Linked DNA regions of Homo sapiens: all the other regions are linked to region 3. Evidence: fine-mapped expression QTL. A gene starts in region 3. Each other region holds a variant in brackets. All regions are shown on one strand. Distances are from middle to middle.

Region 1 (2,500 bases), 670 kb before region 3:
ATATAGTTTCAAGTAGCTAGAAGGTGGATATGGAACGTTCCCAACACAAGGAAATGATTAAATGTTTGAGTTCGTGGATATGCTAATGTATGGAGCATAAGTAATTCCATCTTAGCAAAAGACTCCATCTTACATTTTAAAAGGCATCGTACCAACAGGGACCAGATGTTTGCCTAATCAGTAGAGACTGCATGCAACCAGATAAGGACATAACCAGGCACACTTTCCCACTATCAGTCCTCACCAGAGGACTTCACTGGCTCAGAACAGCCATCTTGACAGACACTGGTCTTGCTGTTAATTGTGATAAACACCCGGCATCCGCGGAAGGCTCTGCCCACATCAAAGACTCTTCCTTGTGGTTCGTTAAAAGACTGCCCAGACCAGGACAGGAGATTCTTTTTGTCCACATTGCTCCCCTTGGACTGTTTCATTAACCCATTTTCCTATCCCCTTTCTCTTGATGTTAGATGTTACTTCGTTTGATGTGGAATGTTTAATCTGTAACATTTGTATTGATTTAGTATACCATTATGTATGGTTTGCAATATCGACTGACTTTTGGAATGGCTTGAGCCTGTGTGCCTACAGCTCTGACTACCGAGTAAATGGGATATACTAAGAAGAATTACCTCCGTAAAGCTTGTGGCTTTTATGATTGGAATAGCATCAGTAAAAGACTGATACTGTAGAAAGACACAAATGTCTGTGGATCTGGTTATGTCTGACTTTGTGCTGCTCATGATACTAATCACCCTGATCTGACTACTATGTATTATGTGAATGGAAACTTCACTATGTGTCTCATTGATATGTGCAATTATTATTTGTCAATTAAAAAATTTGTTTTAGAAGAATATAGAAAAAGAGAGTACAGTCGACCCTTGAACAACACAGGTTTGAATTGTGTGGGTCCACTTACACATGGATTTTTTTCAACCAAACTCAGATGAAAATACAGCAGTATTTGAGAGATGTGAAGCCTGTATATACAAATGGCAGGGCCGGTGATGGGACTGGGATATGCAAGGACTGGAACCAATACCTCCCAGTCCCCACCCCGTGTATGTGGAGGGAAGACTGTATAGTTAATGCATTTGGCCCTGTGATGCTTCAGTGCCAAACAGACACATACAGAATCTAAGACGACACAGACAGAACACAGTGCACGCTAAATCCTTGTTTTTCATATCAGGAATAGACACTTTATCTAAAACTGCTAATACAAAAATGGTGATATAAGGTTATTACTAGGAAATGAGAAGTAATTCTCAAAGGAACTAAATTCAGAAATGGACAAAAGCATAGGGCCTGGGAAGGGGGACTGCGTATCTGGAGGGCTGGTGCTGGGGGCTG[T/C]TGCTTTTCATTTTTAATTCTTCTCTATTACTGATTTTATTATGCACATCTTATTCGTTCTTTAGGGCCTAGTTAGCTTTATCTCTCCTCCCCTGAGGCACAAAGCATATGCTGTTAGTTCTTTCATTCCATAATCAATACTAGACTTGAAAACCAGAAATAAAATCCTAAGCCTCCCAGCCATTCTGAATGGACCCCTTCTCTCAGCAAAGGACATTCCAAAGTTAACTTGAAAAACTAGTTCAGGCCATGATGGGAAGGGGGGGTCAGACATGCCTCATTACACCCTCCTTTCTTTTGGAATTACTGATAGGACAGACTCTTTTTTTTTTTTCACTCTTGTTGCCCAGGCTGGAGTGCTATAGTGTGGTCTTGGCTCACTGCAACCTCTGACTCCTGGGTTCAAGCGATTCTCCTGCCTCAGCCTCCTGAGTGGCTGGGATTACAGGCATGCACCACCATGCCCAGCTAATTTTGTATTTTTAGTAGAGATGGGGTTTCTCTGTGTTGGTCAGGCTAGTCTCGAACTCCTGACCTCAGGTAATCCACCTGCCTTGGCCTCCCAAAGTGTTGGGATTACAGGCGTGAGCCACCGTGCCCGGCCAGGACAGACTCTTTAAGTCTGATAAGAAACGCTTACAATCTATTCTCTCTGAAGCCTGCTACCTGGAGGCTTCACTGCATGAAAAAACCTTGGTCTCCACCACCCCTTATCATTTTTGTTTTTTTGGTTTTGAAGTTGGACATGCTGAATATTCTATTTTTGTTTCTTTAACTTTATTTTAAGTTCAGTGGTACATGTGCAGGTTTGTTCCATAGGTAAACATGTGCCATGGTGGTTTGCTGCATAGATCATCCCATCACCTCGGTATTAAGCCCAGCATCCATTAAGCTATTCCTCCTGATGCTCTTCCTCTGCCACCCCCTCAATAGGCCCCAGTGTGTGTTCTTCCCCTCTTTGTGCTCATGTGTTTTCATCACTCAGCTCCCACTTTAAGTGAGAACGTTCGGTGTTTGGTTTTCTGTTCCTGCATTAGTTAGTGGAGGATAATGGCTTCCAACTCCATTCACATCCCTGAAAAGGACATGATCTCATTCCTTTTTATGGCTGCATAGTATTCCATGGTATATATGTATCACATTT
Region 2 (2,500 bases), 570 kb before region 3:
CTTTCATAAATTTACAATCTCGTTTCAATACAGTGGTGGTACGTGCAGCTATCGAGTGCTGTAGGAATATGGGGAACTCATTCCTAAGAGTGACAGTGGATCTGTCTCTAGATTTTCTAGAGAGGGAACGCCTAAGGTAAGTCTTCTACTGTGGGTAGAAGTTAATCCAGACAAAGAAGGGCATGAGGTTCAAAAGGAACAGCATAAGCAATTAAGGATGTCAGCAAGTAGCACAGTGTGTTACCTTAAGGAATTAGGAATCACTAGATCACAAGATGGGAAGTGAGACTAGCAAGGAAGGAAGGAAACAGGACAAAGAAGCTTGGAGTTCATTCTGCAACCAGTTGGGAACTAATAAAAAAATTACAGTGTTTTTGTTTGTTTGTTTTCTTTTTTCTTTTTTTGGAGACATGGTCTTGCTCTGTCAGCCAGGCTGGATTGCAATGGCACAATCACAACTCATTGCAGCCTCAAGCTCCTGGGCACAAGCGATCTTCCCACCTTAGCCTCCCGAGTTGCTGGGACCTGAGGTGCGCTCCATCAAGCCCCGATACTCTTTGTACTTTTCATAGAGATAAGGTTTTGCCATGTTGCCCAGGTTGGCCTTGAACTCTGGGGCTCAAGTGACCCGCCCATCTTGGCCTCCCAAAGTGCTGGGATTACAGGTGTAAGCCACTGCTCCTGGCCAGGAATTATAGTTGAGATAGACCCTTTTGCAAGGAGTGAGGAGAATGGATTGGAGTGGGGATAGCATGGGAAGTAGAGAGATAAGTTAAGGAGTGTTGGCGTTTGTCAAGGCAAAAGAAGGCAAAACCAGTGGTAGTGAGGATAGAGAAGATACGGATTCAGAAATAGATAAGGGGAAAATTGGTGGCAATAGATTATCTCTTGGACATAGGTGGTAAGGGAGAGGTTAGCAATATAGGGAATCCACAGAACACAAAGTCTCTTGAGTAACTTGTATAGGACTTCAGTTCCACAAGAAAAAAAAAAACAGTTTATTACCACAAAAGGAAAAGAAAAGTCTGATTGCTCATGCTTCTTTTTGCATTGCTCTTTGGGAGTTTCTGTTTTGCAGCTGGAGAACCAAACCGGTCCTGGTTTAAAGTTCCACTGTCTGTGGTTTGAGGGCACAGCCAGTGAGCAGATCTAATGAGTCCACT[A/G]AGTATGTCTTAGAGGATCAGTGCATGCTTGATGGTTGCTTTTTTGCCCCAACTTTATTGTTTTTTTTTTCTTTCTAGGGAAACTGGGCCAGAATTCAATTTATTTAACAGCATAGATGGCTCCTCAGGAAGTCCAGTTCCAGACGGCCACCAGAGGAGAACAATCCAATGCCAAGTCTGTTATAAACACTTCCGGGCTCTGCATTCTCATAGGATGTGTGTTGAACACTAACATGTCAACCCTAGCTCTAATCCTAAAGCACCTAGGATATGAGGTGGATCTTTTTATGTTCTAGATCCTAAGAGGAGATTTGGCCCACAGATATATAAAAAGAACAGTTTGGTTTAGAGATAAAGAAGAATATGACTTTAGAAGAGAGGGACCCCATTGGTTATAAACTCTTCCATGAGACTGCACAGAGGTTACATGTTATTCATCTTTGAGCACAGTACCTAGTGACTGAGCATGCACACTTAGTAAATGATTATTGAATATATGAATACATAGAAAGTCATCTAGCCTGGGACAGGAAAATGAATTATAATTTTGAATAAAACAATTCAGCCTTTTGGAAAGCAAAAGGAAAATCCTAACATAGGATTCCAAAATAAAATAAAATACAAAATCTGTCATAGCTAGGGGTGGAAGAAACATCACACTTGGAGCTGACTAGGTTTTCTTAGCTGGTTAGTGCTAACTGGCAGGGGCACCAGAGTAAAATGGGCCTTCTGGAAGGCTGGAAAGCTGGAGGAAGAGGTGTTTTCCTGGAAAGCCAGGGAATAATTCTGATTTTTTTTCCCTCTAAATTAGAGTGGGGACTTGCTGAAGTTGAGTTTAAGTGAAGGTCAAAAAGAGAACAAGTTTTGTAAGAATTCCTTAAATGCCTGGGTTTGATGATCAGTGCACATTCCTCAGGAATTATTATAGCAGGTCAATAAGAACATAGCCAGTAATGAACCTTTCAGATCCAGCAAGGACTCACATTTCATGCACAGTTTCACCAGCAGTTGCATGACCCCTATCAAGGACCCCAGCAGCCAAGGGAAGTGACTCAAATATGTGGTTCATCTGCTCTTACCCTGGGCAGCCACTCTAGTTCTTATACAGTTATGTATCTTTTGCTAATTAAACCAGGAACCTAATTTAATATTTTTGCTTTGTGTGTAAGATTTCTTCATGTCCATCTATAATCCATCTGAGATACAACTGGCATAAAGATGGGTTCTGAAATGCTGTAGTTCGTGTCAGAAGTAGATTCATAAGCCAAATTACTATCATGGTTTGATTTTAGAAATGGTGTCAGGAAAACAAGAAATGAAATGGTGAGATAAAGAAG
Region 3 (2,500 bases):
CCACGATTACAGAATTTGTAACATTCTTACACTTGGAACTTCATGCACTCAACCAATTCTTACTCTGCCTTGTAAATCCCCCTACCACCAAAGCATGCATTCCCGGTTCTGAAGAAATGGAGGAGGGGGCACAAGAAGACCCTGATTTATTGCATGCAAAAGGAGCGATGGTGGAAATGACTAGAGGGCCTGGGGAGGTGTGATGATGCCGAGAGTGAAGAGGACAGGGGAAGCAAGCTGAGAGGGTGAGGCCGCGGGGAGACCGGGGCGCGCGGCACGCGGCGCTCTCACCTGTGGATGTTCATCTCCCGTGGAGGGCGGTGGGCCTTGTCGTAGGAGACCTTGGCGAAGACGCCGGCCACGATGACGAAGGCGATCACCCCGCAGGTGATGTAGACGGTGAAGTTGGTCTTGTCCTTCTCCGGGTCGTACTTGTTCTCGGGCCCCGGCGACACCACCTTGGTGCTGGGCGTCTGTACCCACACCGGGCTCTGGTAGTTGGTGCACTGGCGCTGGTCCAGCTTCTCGTGGCGCTTCTTGCAGCAGAAGCGGTAGTAGCAGGTACCGCAGCAGTACAGGTAGCCGCTCTCGCTGTTGTTACACTCGAACTCCTTGTCGTACTGGCCGCTCACGTCGTAGTAGCCCCAGCACGTCTCGTAGGTGACGGCCGCGCTGGCCGCCGCCGCCACAGCCGCCGCGGGCTGCCCCCGCCGGCTTCCCGCCTCCGGGATTCCGGGCGCCCGGGCGGTGCCGTTCAGCTCGCGGCCGCCCCGTGCCAGGGCGCCCCCGGCCCTCCGGCCCCCGACGGCAGCGCCGCCTGCACTCAGGGTCCGGTTGGCGGCGCGGCCGCGGGCTCCGTGGACGCTGGGCAGCAGGTCCAGGGACTCCAGCGAGAGCAGCAGCAGCAGCAGGAGGCGCCGCAGCGCCATGGCGGGGCCGGGCGGGAGGGCGCGGGGAGGCTTCCGCGGCAGGCCGCTCCCCCGGCGGGCCGGGCTCGGAGGACCCGCCGCGCGGGCCGGGCTGGAGGCGCTGAGCGGTCAGCGGCTCCGGGGCGATGGCGCCATCGAGGCGCGGGCGGCAGTGGCGGCGGCGGCGCGCGGTGCGCACGGACCGGCCCGGCGCGGGCTGCTCGGGCTCTCAGGCTGCGCGCCGGCTCCGCGCTCCCCCTGCGGGCTCGGCGCGCCTCCTGGGCAGCCCCATCCCCCGCCGGCGGTGACTGCGGCCCCGCGCGCGGCTCGGCTCAGGCAGGACCCGAAGCGCGGCTCCGGGCGGCGGCGGCGGCGGCGGCGGCGTGGTCCCGTCCGGGCGGGTCCTGCGGGACAAGACGGGGAGCCGGTCACGGGGTGGGGCGACTGGCGCTCCGGGAGCAGGAGGAGAACCGCGGGCAGGCGGGCGGGGAGGGTGCGCGCAGCCCTCGAGGAGAGAGACTCGGAGCCGGGAGGGGCGTAGAGCCCGCTCCCAAGACGGGGTCCCGCGGCCCTGCGCGCCTGGAACCGAGAGCGCACGGGCCGCCCCTCCAGGCGCAGCTCGGCCGCCCGGGTCCCCCAGCCGCCCGGCCCCGCAGCGCGCTCCCGCCGCAGGCTGGCTCCCTGGGACGGAGCCGGTTGAGGCTGGGGTCCGGCGGCGAGCCGGGAGAGCGCGCGGCGGCTGGACCTCACTCACTCACCATGCCCGGCTGCGACTGCAGAGGCGGCGGCGGCGGCGGCGGCGGCGGCGGCGGGGCGAGGCGGGAACGCAGCTGCCGGAGCGAGCGAGCGGAGAGCCGCCGGCTCGCCGCCTGCACTAGTGCCGGAACGTGTGCGAGAGTGAGCGAGGGAGACACACGCACTCACACACCCGCACACACGGGAGCGCCGCGAGGGGAGGGGGGACAGGGGAGGGGAGGGCAGCCGCTCTCCGCCACCCACGTTTGCACGCCCGGGCGCTCAGGGTGCGGGGCGGGGGGGACTCCTTTTCGCTTCTTCCGGATCGCAGCAGTTGAAGCTCCGCGTCACGAAAGCTCCGGACAGCAGTTATTCGACACGGCGAACCCGGCGGGCGAAGAGGGGGCCGGGAGCAGGGCGGAACGTCCGCTCTGCAGCCGGCCCGCGGCAGGGACTGACCTCCCCTGCCATTGCCTTCTCTAGCCTTCGCGACCAGTCCCCACCCTACCGGAGCCCGGGGCAGCGCGCTGCCTGAGCGGGAGTTGGGGTTTCTGCAAGCCTTTGCCTCTCCCTAGTGGTGATACTCGCAGCCAGGAGAAGAGGTCAAACCCATTGCTACAGGTTCCCAAACTGAGTCCAGGGGTCAAGTGGCTTGTCTGAGGCTGTTGGGCGACCCGTGAGCTGAGCCTACACTCTCTTCCCCTTGGTCACTCTTTCCCCAACCCCGTACCCACTACGCATAAAGGCGCTAGACAGCCCCAGGACTGGATGGCAACTCTTTGCTATACTTTTTTTTTTCCCCGCGGAGCCTCGAGGCCATTAGAAAGCTATCTGAACCTCTGAGACTCAGCTTTGTA

Which allele goes with the higher level. Positions count from the first base shown, and alleles are read on the strand shown. Sizes are in standard deviations (SD) of each study's normalised expression.
With allele T in place of C in region 1, the expression in testis of the gene that starts at base 1,139 in region 3 is higher (large effect, 0.89 SD a copy in GTEx).
In carriers of allele G in region 2, the expression in tibial nerve of the gene that starts at base 1,139 in region 3 tends to be lower than with A alone (small effect, 0.17 SD a copy in GTEx).

What was found. PIP is the estimated chance that this variant, and not a neighbour inherited with it, causes the effect. A credible set is the group of variants that fine-mapping cannot tell apart.
Region 1: its variant is the best candidate, but not a certain one, in a credible set for the expression of SHISA6 in testis (GTEx, PIP 0.78).
Region 2: its variant is the best candidate, but not a certain one, in a credible set for the expression of SHISA6 in tibial nerve (GTEx, PIP 0.85).

Annotation. Positions count from the first base shown.
Region 1 is chr17:11,906,649-11,909,148 of GRCh38, reverse strand. The region is part of intron 61 of DNAH9 (dynein axonemal heavy chain 9); the gene reads right to left. Among named protein-coding and RNA genes, the nearest start is that of ZNF18, 90 kb to the left of the region's middle. RefSeq lists a silencer at 217-409. The variant T/C (reference allele first, on the strand shown) is at 1,357.
Region 2 is chr17:11,813,694-11,816,193 of GRCh38, reverse strand. The region is part of intron 45 of DNAH9 (dynein axonemal heavy chain 9); the gene reads right to left. Among named protein-coding and RNA genes, the nearest start is that of ZNF18, 180 kb to the left of the region's middle. The variant A/G (reference allele first, on the strand shown) is at 1,164.
Region 3 is chr17:11,239,852-11,242,351 of GRCh38, reverse strand. It overlaps SHISA6 (shisa family member 6), which reads right to left and starts at 1,139. Exons shown (of 6, transcript NM_207386.4): 1 at 292-1,139. The coding sequence starts at 929.